Regions from separate parts of the Homo sapiens genome. Here region 2 is linked to region 1. A link means that fine-mapping ties the variant in region 1 to the expression of a gene that starts in the linked region. Tissue or cell type: whole blood. Region 1 holds a variant in brackets; the other region holds the start of a gene. All regions are shown on one strand. Distances are from middle to middle.

The links. PIP is the estimated chance that this variant, and not a neighbour inherited with it, causes the effect.
Region 2: ZDHHC23 starts here. The variant in region 1 is fine-mapped to the expression of ZDHHC23 in whole blood (TOPMed, PIP 0.94).

The regions. Positions count from the first base shown.
Region 1 is chr3:114,089,820-114,097,805 of GRCh38, reverse strand. No RefSeq gene overlaps it. Among named protein-coding and RNA genes, the nearest start is that of QTRT2, 37 kb to the right of the region's middle. The variant C/T (reference allele first, on the strand shown) is at 3,311.
Region 2 is chr3:113,944,441-113,949,886 of GRCh38, reverse strand. ZDHHC23 (zDHHC palmitoyltransferase 23) reads right to left here and starts at 1,874. Exons shown (of 5, transcript NM_001320466.2): 1 at 1,697-1,874; 2 at 924-1,201. The coding sequence starts at 1,084. It overlaps GRAMD1C (GRAM domain containing 1C), which reads right to left. Exons shown (of 18, transcript NM_017577.5): 18 at 2,713-4,489. The coding sequence ends at 4,409. RefSeq lists silencers at 1,292-1,391, 1,742-2,241 and an enhancer at 1,956-2,456.

The sequences.
Region 1 (7,986 bases):
AAAAGAAAAGAAAAGAAAAGAAAGAGAGAGAGGAAGGGAGGAAGGAAGGGAGGAAGGAAGGGAGGGAGGGAAGGAAAAAGAACACTCAAACAGAATTAATGTTGAGCTAATCAAGGCAGCTAAGAGGCAAATTCAACTCATTAATTTGGTCTGTAGTTCTTTCCTTAATAATGAGTAGATAATGAAATGTAAACCACTAACATTTTGATTTTCTTTACCCATAGATACTGTCATGTGGTGATTTTCCACCTTCTGTCATCTCTTAGTGAAACAGCCTTTGCAAAATTATGACAGTGGGAGAATTATGACAGTGCAAGATATCTGACCTAACTGACTCCATCTTGCTTCTAACCACCAAGCTGCCCCTGTTCATTCTTGGGCATGAGGCTGAACTAACTTTGGGAGAAACTTAGTTTATAGTTTAACTTTAAAACAAAGATAATAACAGCCCTTTCCCAAAACAAACCCTCTTCTCGCTTGGGGACCAGGCTGCCTTTGTAAGACTAACTAGCCACAAGATTAGAAATTATGGTTTAGGAGTCATGCGGCTAGACACCACAAGATTCTAAACCTCCCCAGTTGCTCCTAGGGATAACATCACTATCATAAAACGTAAGACTGGTGCTCATGATATTTTGCAGACCTTGTGCTCTGATGCACCAACTGGTGCCACCCAGACCAGTAATCTGGCTCAACCAGCACTGCAATCCCACCTAGGAGCAGGAGACAGTAAGACGAATCCACTTTGACCCCATATGATTTCATCTCTGACCCAACCAATCAGCGACCCCCACTCCCTGGTCCCCTACCTGCCAGATTATCCTTTAAAAACCCGAGTCTCCAAATTTTGGGGGAGACTGATTTGAGTAACAGAACTCTGGTCTCCATTTAGCAGGCTCTGCATGAATTAAACTCTTTCTCTATTCCAATTCCCCTGTCTTAAATCAGCTCTCTCTGGGCAGTGGGCAAGGAGAACCCATTGGGTGGTTACATTAGGTTGGACTTTGATTTGACAGACTACATGAGTAAAGTGAAGCTTTCTAACTCTATGTAGAATATACGTAATTTTGGAGTTTGCTCCTGGTCTATAAATTGCGAGAAGGCAAGTAGGGTTTTTGTCATTTAATCCAGTGTCTGGAGAGCACTTGACACTTAGTTGGCAGTGGATTAATCTTTCTTGACTAGGTGAATAAATGAATTCTAAGTATCAGAGAATTAGGATGGGGAAGACATACACAAATGAGCAAAATCCTTGGTACCAATATATTGGGAAGTCCCTGATTAAGATTGGGTTGTATGTGCTTATCGGCTGGGACAAATTCCATAGACTATCAAGGACCTGTGAGAAAAAGACAGGATCTCCTGATGAGGCCCTGGAAGATGCTCACTTCCTCCCCTCTTCTGATAAAAACCAGCAACCAACAAAAATTATTAAAGTATAATTATAGGAGGGGCATAGGCCAGGGAGGGAATTATAAATGGCATAATATATTGGAAAGGGCTTGGTCTATATATCTTTCTGAGCTGGGTTTGAGACATCTTTTTCCAAATTCCATTATATCCACAGTCATAATAACGAAGTCTCCTAAAATGTATCTACAAACAGAATGGTCTCTGTGTTCAAGAATCACTGTTATCCCAGCAGCCAGAAAGGCTATAGTCACTGTCAGAGTAGCAATAATAATGTCTGTACCACACCTAGTTTGTGAGGTACAAGTTACCAACGAGGCTGAATAGAGGCAGAACAAGAGATAAGGACTCAGAGAAGAATTGGGGTGGAAAAGGAAACCTAGACTCTAGTTCTAGCCTTGCCTCTCATTTCCTGTTGGACCTTGGGTTAGTCACACACTGTCTGGGCCTGGGTTCTGCCTCTGTCAAATGAAGGGGTTGGATAGATAATTTGTAACATTCCTTCTGGCTCTAAAATCATACACTATGTGTTACCAAAGAAGCTTCTTTCTGACAAAGAGAAAGACTAAGCTATTTTTTTCCCTTTCTACGATTTAAACGTCCTTTTGCTTTTCATTTATATGCGAATGTATGAGATTTTAACCAAAACAAAATTAGCATCTCTGGGTCACTCCTCAGCCCTCTTATCATTAAAATGTAGTTCAGATTTCTGAGACCACAAATAGAAAGAGGAATAGTTAATAAGTTATCCCAACTTACCAGTCCTTAATACCACGGAGTAATTATGGGGGTAGCCCAGAGGGCAAATAGGAGAGGTTCAGAGTACACAAAAGTTCAGTTTGGGATAGGCCTCCACCTATTTTTTTTTTTTTTTTTTTTTTGAGGCGGAGTCTCACTCTGTCGCCCAGGCTGGAGTGCAGTGGCGCAATCTTGGCTCACTGCAAGCTCCACCTCCCGGGTTCATGCCATTCTCCCGGCTCAGCCTCCAAAGTAGCTGGGACTACAGGCGCCCGCCACCACGCCCGGCTAATTTTGTTTTTGTATTTTTAGTAGAGATGGGGTTTCACCGTGTTAGCCAGGATGGTCTCGATCTCCTGACCTTGCGATCCGCCCGCTTCGGCCTCCCAAAGTGCTGGGATTACAGGCGTGAGCCACCGCGCCCAGCTGCCTCCACCTACTTTTGGTCGTTGTTCTTGAAGGAGAGCAGATGCTCTGCATAAGAAAAACACAATTTAGGAAGGTCCGGGGTAAAATGGGGAAAATCCTGGGCTTTTGAGTCATAGTGCTGAGTTCAGAGTTCAAATCCTGGATCCCTTGCTTTGTGTCTTTTTTTTTTTGAGACAGTCTTGCTCTGTTACTGAGGCTGGGGTTCATTGCTCACTGCAGCCTCAAACTCCTTGGCTCGAGTGATCGTCCCTCCTTGGTTTCCAGAGTAGCCAGGACTACAGGTGTGTACCACCATGCCCAGCTAGTTATTTTTTATTTTTTGTAGAGATAGGGGTCTTGCTTTGTTGCCCAGGCTTGTCTCACACTCCTGGCCCCAAGTGATCCTCCCACTTTGGCCTCTCAAAGTGCTGGAACTAAGGCATGAGCCATCACACCCAGCCCAATTTCTCCTCTGTAAATTGGAAAAGATAATGTCAACCTCAGAGGGTTGCCATGAGCAATAAAGAAGGTAATGGATGGATCACGAAGTCAGGAGATCGAGAGCATCGTGGTTAACACGGTGAAACCCTGTCTCTACTAAAAAAAAAAAAAATACAAAAAATTAGCCGGGCATGGTATCATGCACCTGTGGTTCCAGCTACTCGGGAGGCTGAGGCAGGAGAATCACTTGAATCTAGGAGGCGGAGGTTCCAGTGAGCCGGGAACACCACTGCACTCCAGCCTGGCAACAGAG[C/T]GAGACTCCATCTTAAAAAAATAAAAATAAAAATAAAAAAGAAGGTAATGGATAAGGCACAGACAGAATTGAACAAATTATAATGAAAAAAGAAACGGATAAAGTGATGTGTTAAAGATGGAGAAGTAGAGAACATACTACAGACACATGATGAGAAGAAAATTAATCACACATTCTCCCTTAATTTCAGTGGGGCAGGGGTGAGGGTGCAGACACGGCAAATGCTGAGGGATTATCTTTCCCTTACAGAGCTGATAGTCTGGTTGGAAGATGAGGCTCACAGAACTGAAGCACTGATTAAATCAGATGCCTAGAGCACTGGTTGCTGGTGCCTTTATGAACAAAGGAAATCAGAATAGAAGCCTCTCCTCTTCCAATCTTGAGACTCTAGAATTCTAGAAAAGCAAGTTTTTATGGAAGGTTTGGTTCTTGGGCTGGACCTTGAGAATGGGTAGGATTAGGATATAACCACTTAGGAAAAGTGGAAAAGTCCACGGCAATTGGTTAGGTTCAGATTATGGCGGCCCTAGAAATTCAGGCTGCCAGTTTAGCCTTGGTACAGCAGGAAGAGAGTGGAGTTGAGGAGGACAAGGAGGAGGTGAGGGGCAGGATGGGTGGTAATCTTCCTTGAGTCAGGCTTTAACTGCCTCCTCTGAGTCAGTCACCAAGTCTTGCTGATCCTCCTTGAAATGCCTTATACCCATCCCTTCTATGTATTACTTCATTCATCCAAGGAGTAAGGTTTCCAGCTGATTTGGCTGGAAGCCAGGTGCAAGGAAGTTGAAGTGCAGAACTAGTCTGACTGAAGGAAGATAGTAAATTTGGTTTTAGACACGTTGGATTTGTGGCAACAGGTGAATGTTTAGGTGGAAAAAATATAAAGTGGAACTGACTTTTTCAACATGACTGAACTTTCTACAAAAAACAATGTAAAACTGGAGAGTCTAACCAAAATCAGTTCAAGTGTAAAAAAGAAAAAATTGGACATACTTTGTCACTCTCTTGTCTTTTGAAGTGCAGTTACTATGTGGGAATGGAGTACATTTCCAGTTGGTATTTTCAGCTAGCATTGTGGGGGAACAATAAATAGAATTGTGATGGAAATGTTATTTAAGTTTTGTTGAACTAAAAAATAAATGAGTAGAAAATGGAAAATGCTGGAAAATGTGAGTAAATATTTTAGCTTTTTGGGGGTGTGGAAAACTCATATCCGTTATGTAATTGGATTCTGTGAATGGATTTATGACAAAAATAAATGATTCTGGGAGAGTTCAAAGAAAATATTTTAACTATTTGGAAGGAAAACAGAGCCTCGGAGGGGAGAACAGCTTCCCATCTGTCCATAAAAATTAGAGGAAAATTTCACCAGACCACTGAGCTTGCTATGGTCAGTCTCGAGGGCTAATCAACAAAGGAGAATTCTGAAGATGCACACACACCCTGTTTCTCAATTATTGGAGTATCCCTCACCTCCTCTCCTTTTGATTTCTCTCCCCTTACTTTTATGTCCTTCTTCTTGTGCCTTTTTGATAGCAACTCTAAAGCAGTGGTTATGAAATGGTTATACAACTTTTATTTGAGGCTGAAAGAGATGATTACGTGGTTTGGGAGGGAAAAGGAAAAGGACTGAATAAAAGGAAGTGACTGTAAGCTGTTAAGAAAGAGAAGACTGTTAATAGCAACATCTTGATGTTAAGAGACAAGCTGAAACCATCCAAGGCAGGCAGAGAACAAGGTGATAATAAGAGAAAATGTGTTTCGCAGACAAAGGAGCCGACAGCAGGCGAGAGCAGTTCAGGGAGAGAGGTGAGCATTAGGAATAGTGTGCGGAAAGGAGGCACGGATCCCTCTGAATCACACTGGGAAGCATCGGCCGTTTGAACTCCTTGGCAACTCCGACCTGATCTCAAAGTAGATTGTGAGGAATGAGAACAAAAGGAAAGTTCACTCTGAGTTCCTCTTGTCAGAGCAGGGGAAATTGCTTTGAGGCCAGCACTGAAAGATGATAATGGTACCAAGTAACAGAAAAAAAAAATCCGAAAAACCAAAAATGTGTCAGGTCACCGGGAGCTTGCCTAGCATAAAGTGACATAAAACCACCACTGACATTCTCATAGGTCCTACCACATAGTGTTGTGCAAGTCACTTCTAACCAGCACTCAGTTGGCCAAAATAAGGAAGAGAATGCCTCAACTACTCAGAATATTCGTTCACTTGACAAACAGTAATTGAGATTTCACGGTGTCATCCAGGACTATTGCTATTAATGCTGGAAGGTGCAATAGGAGCTCTTATCTTATGTCCTGTACCAGCTGGTCCTGTGAGGCCAGAAGGAACCACTGGAAAGTGAATACTGGGAAATCGATGCTGACCCTAGAAGGGCACAGGCCCGGCAGAAAATAGGTGGTGAGATTTAGGAGTGCCAAAATGCTAACTAGAAAGAACTGTGTGCATGTTTAAATTCCTTGTTATGGACTGAATGTTTGTGTCCCCACAAAATGTTTACGTTGAAGGCTGGGCGTGGTGGCTCAAGCCTGTAATCCCAGCACTTTGAGAGGCCTCAAGGCGGGTGGATCACGAGGTCAGGAGTTTGAGACCAGCCTGACCAACATGGTGAAACCCCGTCTCTATTAAGAATACAAAAATTAGCTGGACGAGGTGGCGGGCACCTGTAATCCCAGCTATTCAGGAGGCTGAGCCAGGAGAATCGCTTGAACCCAGGAGGCAGAGTTTGCAGTGAACTGAGATCGCGCCACTGCACTCCAGCCAGGGTAACAGAGTGAGACTCCATCTCAAAAAAAAAAAAAGTTTATGTTTAAATCCCAACCCCAATGTGATGGTATTCAGAGGTGGGGCCTTTGGAAGGTAATTTAGATCATGAGGGTGGAGTCCTCATGAGTGGGATTAGTGCCCTTATAAAAGAGACTCCAGGGTGCTCTCTACCCTTCTTTCCACCATGTGGAGACATGGAAAGACAAGAGCAGTCTGCGACCAGGGAGAGGGCCCCTACTAGAATTCAACCATGCTGGCTCCCTCATCTCAGACTTCCAGCCTCCAGAACTGTGAAAAATAAATTTCTTCTGTTTTAAGCCACCCAGTCTATGGTATTTTGTTATAGCAGCTTGAACTAAGACACTCCCAAGAGGAAAGACACAGCCAACTGCTAGTCTTTCTTCTCTAGGCTTAAAATTTCTCATCCATAAAATAGGTTAAATAAGATCCTGAATACCTTCCCTTTCGGCAGAGTTAGAATGGTTCTAGGAGTTATCTGGGGATCCTGCAATGGAGATGGGACAACATGGGCTCTCTTTTTTGTTGTTATTTTTGAGACAGAGTCTCACTCTGTTGCCCAGGCCAGAGTGCAGTGGCACGATGTTGGCTCACTGCAACCTCCACCTCTTGGGTTCAAGTGATTTTCCAACCTCAGCCTCCCGAGTAGCTGGGACTACAAGCACGTGCCATCACACCCGGCTAATTTTTGTATTTTTAGTAGAGACAGGATTTTGCCACATTGGCCAGGCTGGTCTCAAACTCCTGACCTCAGGTGATCCACCCACCTTGGCCTCCCAAAGTGCTGGGATTATAGGCATGAGCCAGCGCACGGGGCGCCAACTGTTAATCTTTCTTCTCCAGGCTTAAAATTCCTCCTGCATAAAATAGGTTGAATAAGATGCTGCATACCTTCCCTTCTGGCAGATTTAGAATGGTTCTGGGAGTTATCTGGTGACCCTGCAAAGGAGATGGGACAACATGGGCTCTCTTAATGTGGGAATCTAAACAGCTGCAGGAACTAGAAACTACAGGTATGTTTTCTGTATATTGCAATCAGTTGTTGAGAAATTTTTAAATGCTAAAGATACCAAAGCCCTTCTTCCAGATTTTAAGCTAGAGGTTGCAAACTAGGCACCCCCATGTTTTGTTTGGCTAGCAGAATATTGTTTAAAAATTGACCCAGCATTTAAAAATTGTGAAATTTCACCTGAAAATCCAGATTTTTGGCTTCTCCTGAAAGACTGAAATATCTGGCAGCACCGGAGCCACAGCAGCAATTAGCTGGAGGTGGGTATCAGCTGTCCCATTTAGCTGGAACACCTGTTCTCTAGTTTGATCATCTCTACCCCTCACATTAGGGTGACCATTTAACTTGGCCAGCACTTTTGAGAATAAAAGGTGGTGGAGGCGGGGGCAGGATGCTGTGTATTTATACCTGAACTAGGGGCATGAAGCAGGATTTTCGGGAGGAAGAGTGCACGATTATGCTAATTCACATTGCTTACACTGGCTTGTTTCATTCTTTGCCCACTGTTATTTGGGTTTTGTGCTCACAAATCAGGGAACCTCGTGAAGAAGCAAGGAAAGAAAAGGTGTAAATTACTAAGAGACACAAAGGTTGAAAAGAAAGTGAAGAGATTAAAAAGGATATTTAAATGAATGCCAATTATACCAAACTTTTAGGTAAAGGCAGAGCCTTGCTGGTGGCTGGCTCAGCATGGAAGTTTGACCTTCCAGGCTCCCTGCCCTACACAGCACTGTCAGTTTTAATAAGCTATAATCCCATAGTTACAAGCAAGACTAATCAAACTGCAGAGAGCAGCCTGTTCCTAATCAGGAAGGCACAGGGTAATCATTTAACTCTGTGGTTTCTTACTGAGCTCCAAGCTGCCTCTACAGAAAAA
Region 2 (5,446 bases), 150 kb after region 1:
CTGTCAAGTAAGAACGACAAAGGGTTCACTGGGTTTTTAATAGTCAAGGCTGGTACTAGACTGCAGACCCCAGGGAATGCTTTTCATGGCTGTATTAATGTATCAAGTTCTAAGTCAACAAATTGGCAGTTGCAATGACTTTTTTAACCAGAAATAATTATTAATGGGAAAAGCAAGTTTCCAACATCCCTATCCTTCCCACATTATGACTTCCATTGACAGTGATTTTTAAATATATAATTACTCAGAAAATGGATTAAAACCAGATTATTCACTGTCCGACACCAAATTTTTTCAGTGATGTTAAAAATTCTCTTTTTGGATAGTAATTTCCATCACTTGGAAAATAAAAGCCAAATACAGTATGATCAATCAAGAGTGTTGCTGGTCGCACTGAAAACTGTGAATCCAGGGGAGATACATGCCTTCTGGCTGGAGTTCCTCCCCAGAAACAAGGGGCAAGACCAGTACTAACAGCAGGAAAATGAAATTTCAACCCACAAGGCCCTCTGTGGTCAGGTGCCACCCAGTCCCAAGTAGTCAGTCTCTAAATGCTGAGACCTCTGAGAAGGCAGGAACTTTCTGGAACTATTGTGTTCATTTTAAACTTACAGATTCTGCTGGCTTGCATTTTATTTTATACTAACTTGCCTACTATCCCTTTAAACTGCCTGTTCTCTCCCTCATCTCTCTTTAAACGAAAAATAATATCCTATAAAACAGAGCAGACAGACAGCTGTGCACTACTGCGTAATCCATCTTTCTAAAATCCTCACACTTGACACAGAAGCCAACTCTCATTTTAGATGCTTGGAAATAGAATCAAGAGCAAATTCTAGCATTCTGGGTGGCTAGGTTGAAAGTACACATGGCAGTTCTCAGAAGGGTGATGGGGCCAGCGTCAAGAAATGCTCTGTTCTTACCGATCACACCCTTCATCCAGATCTTGACAATCACACAAACAAGTAGCCACGTGGTTCTTTTCCCCATTCCGATCTATGTACTCGCAGCAGCACAGGGGCTCCAATTCAGGTTCTTCGGTTTTCTTTTTCTTCACAGGCTTCATACTGCCCTTCTGTGTCATGATTTGCACCTGTCACCATGAGGCGTAAGAAGCCCTCAGAAGGTAAAGGTGGAAAGAACACAACTTACATCTCGTAAATAGGTCCACGCCTCTCTCTCTCTGCTTAACCTCCAACGCCTGAGCAATCAAAAATGAGAAGAGAGAGGGGGAGGGGGTCCCGTTTTCATCAGGCTTCTGTGGCTCCGCCTGGCCACACAGGGGGCTCCAGGGTTCTTGGAGGTCTGAGCTGCCTTCACCGCCCCTTCCCAGCCTGGGCAGGCGCCGTCTGGGCACCAGCCGTTCCTATGGCGACAGCCGACCACGCGTCCGGGACAGCCGGGGCGCGGGCGGTTGCGCTCACCTGCGGGTGCAGGCTGGGAGGGCCGAGCGGTCTCCGCTCCAAGCCTGGGCGCTGGTGGGAACTCAGCCTCGGGGCTATAGGGAAAGGCGAAGCATATGCCCGCTAGCAGCGGCTGACACACCAGGCTCCCTGGCAGTGCTCAGGGGTCGCGGTCCAGCCCAACTGGTCGGGCCCCTTGCAGGGTGCGCCTCTCCCGCCCCCGCCAATCCGGAGGACGTGGGCGGGCCTCGCGCACCACCCCGCCAGGAGAATGACCTTGGAAGGGAAGTTACCTGCCCTCTGGCCGGAGGTGCAACTGCAGCCAAAGAGGCGGAGGGGAGATGGGTCGGCTTCCCCGGAGGCACAGACGCGTCTCCCGATCTCTGCTACGCGGAGCCCCGGGCGTGACGGCAGGAGTCTCCGGGACCCGGGCTCCGCTCGGCCGCTCCCTCGCCGCAGCCGCCCACCTGTGACCACAGCCCGCCGCGGCCCGGGCGGCGCGCCCGCCTCCCCGCGCCGTCCCAACCGCCCCTCCGCCCGCCCGGCTCGGTGCGCCAGGTCCACGCGCGCTTCCGGGTGCCCCGCCCCCGGCGCCGGGGTTCCCCGCCTGTCCGCACGTGCGCCGCCCGCCTCCCCGCGGTGCCCGCGGGCGAGGCTCCTCCTCCTGGCCCGCGGCCCTGGCGCCGGGAAGGGGAAAATCGGCTCCCGAGAGCGCGTCCAGGAGGCAGGGGCAGGAGGTGGGTCCCGCACCTCCGGCCTGCCCCGCCACGCCACGCCCCGCCCCGCCCCAGAGGCGGCAGCCGGGCGCCGCCGGTGCCTGCGGGCGGCGCGCCGGTGGGACAGCCTCCGGAGCCCCGGGGTGCGGACGAGGTGCGGAGACGGAAATACGGGAAACCCGGGAACCCGGAGGATTTCCGAACTACGTGAGACCGTGGAGCCGCCAGCCTTCATTCAGACTCCGGCAACAGGCGGTGAGGGAGCTTTCCACCGCAAAATGTTATCCAAGTACCTCCCCCAGTTTCGCTGACCTTCTCTTAAAGGCCCATCACTGCTGCCGGATCTGTTCATTTAGCAACCTGTTCGTTTCATGATTTCTGGCTAGCAGCCTTTACATTGGACCAGCAGGCCTCGCTAGTACTTTTGTTCCAGTCGTCTGTGTATTTGAGATGAAACTGCCCTGAGATGAGAGTCCTTTTTGGGTTTTATTATTGCACAAAATTTCTTTAAAGAGTGTGGGCCCATGTACACGTTTCACTACCGCAGGCTTTCTAGTTTTGTTTTTAAGTAGAAAAAGAAGAAAAACTACAACTCAGAAATTTTCAATTTTATTAATATTCAATTTACGTAACAGGCTCAAATTTTATTAATTGAATTCTGCATCCATACGAATTTAGTCTTAATTTATAAAGCAACTTACTTCGATACTCTTCCTTGAAGTATGTTATAAAATACAACGTTTAAATAAACATCACAAAAATATTGTTTGTCGATCATTTTTGTGACTTTAACAGAGAAATCTTCAAGTTTATAATCCACTCATTCTTGCTTACAGCCAGACACTACATAAATCCTTACCAAAACAAAACAAACCCAGGTAGGTTCACTGTTACCCCTAGGTATGCTTCGTTGGAATTCACCCAGAGAAACCCATTTTCCCTCTAACGGAGTCAATACTTTCATTCTCTACAGGCATCTCAAAAATGACTATAATAATGCCATGTGGCTTTGGGGACTCTGGAGAAAAATGAAACATTTAATTAAAGGCAATAGTTGTTCAAACAGTAAGAATGTATACACAGTTTATATATAGATAGATAGATGGATATGTATTTTTTCCCCAGAGAAAGGGCTCAAGAGACAAAACAGTAAAACACTTCAACTTTCCCTAACTCTTGAAAAAATATCTGATTTTAAGTCAGTTTACAAAGTTCTTATTTTAATGAGCCACTTGTATGGAGACACATATGCATAAAAACTTTTTATGAAAGAGCCAAAGCTTGCATCTGAGTTAAAACTTGATAGTCAGTACACTTGTACTGGGACATACGTGCCCCTGAAGTTTTTATTAAAGAGCTAAAATCTATGTCTGGCTTATAACTTACCAATCAAAACAAGTCACACACATACATAAAGAAGGAAGCCATACATGGTTACTGAAAATACACAAATTATTTTCAACCAGATGTGTCACTTCCACCATGAAAGACTGCTAAGCTGAAGCCAATCTTAGTTCAAGTATGCATTTGATCTGTCACTAAATGCCCAGATTTTAACATAACCTTCTGGTTTTTAAAACTCAGAGGATGGTTCTTCCTTTTGACTGTTGGTATTCTAAGTGAGGAGGCAAGATAATCCCACCTCTGATAGTTACCTTAAGAAAAAACAACTATTTCTTTCATAAAGATACAGCATGGCAGAAGACCCTTTCTGATAATCATCATCAACATGCAGATTCAAAAAGTTTGACTATTAAATTTGCATGCTAAATAAATGAAGACATTATAATCTTTACAGTACACAAACCTGGAAATGTTATATGCCTGAAAACAGAACCTTTAAAATCAGTAATGACATAGAGGTTTCTTCTTATATTGTCCTGTTTATCCTCTTGGTCTTATCTCAGTTACAAAAGCGACCTATTGGACATGTACGGATTCTGTGCTAACAAAGCATCAGACTTCACTGTAGAAATGAGACCATACCACTCAATTCAGGGTGTGTCATTTTCTTTTTGTATCAGAGAAATTCAGTTCTATAATATATTTCATGGTTCACTGAAGAAATTCACAGCTTAAAAATATCTATAAGAAGTGAAAGGATGGATTATTAAGGCCAGCAGAAACTAATTATCAAATAAATGTTACTGAAAGAAATGTTCATATTAGAAATCTCAATAATGAAAAAACATAGAAATGTTCTATGCCAAAATCCTTCATTCGTCTGGTTTTCTTCCAGGTATTTTCTTTAAGTTCCAAGTATCTCTGCGGTTTTAGTCCTTCAGATCACTAGCTTTCAACAGCCATGCCAGTCTTATTCTTATTTAGTAGATCAAACGTTTTCTGAAGCATAATGAGTGAGCTCTTCAGCTGTAAACAAAGTTAATTTTCAAAATCAGATTAATTTTTCTAATCAGATTTGAAAATTTCTGTTTTTTATGCCCAAAATTTACAGTGACACTTAATATAGTTTTGTTTATACTGATGCCCAAATAAAACGTTAAATACAAAATACCTGATTCTTTGGGGTATCTATCAGTATGATTGCTACAGAGTTCTTCCCATTTGCTGGAGTATTGTACTTCTTCCTACTGCTACATAGTCTACCTCCCAATAGGTCCATTAATCAAATTAAGCGTAGTGACAGACTCGTTTTCCTAAAAGATTTCTGAAGTTGCAGTGGTCTCCTCACTATCCCCTAAACAACTCAAGTTTGCTTCAGTGCCTTTGCATGCTCTCATCCTCATGTTCTTCACCTAAAACTTACTCATATTCACACTCTTCATGTAGTTTTCCCCAGTCATTCTGCCTATAAACTCCCAAAGCATTATCCTTACTACTTAACACTTTGACACTGAATTTTGTAATCTTTGTCATTAACAATACACCTGGACATCTCATTTCTCTAAGAAAATTGTGTGCAACTCAAGAGCAGGAATTATGTCTTACTCTTTTTTTGTATTCATTCAACAAATATTTGTTGCTTGCCTATCACATGTTGGGCAGTGTTCTAAGCACTGGATATACAATGGAGAACCAAATAGGCACTGTCCTGTCCTTCATGGAGCTTACAGACTAGTCAGGGATCCAGAACTATTAATAAAACAAATAATCACATACATAAATATATACTTAGATATTTTATTAAGTTTTTGACTTGAGCAGCTGGTGGATGGTAGCATCATTTTCTGAAATGAGACCCACTAGAGAATTAGGTTTTGGATTAGAGGAAAATTGACTTCTGTTTTGGACATAATCAGTTTGGGAATCCTGTTAGTCATCCAGGTGAAGATGCCAAGTAGGCAAGTGACTGTATGAGTCTAGAGC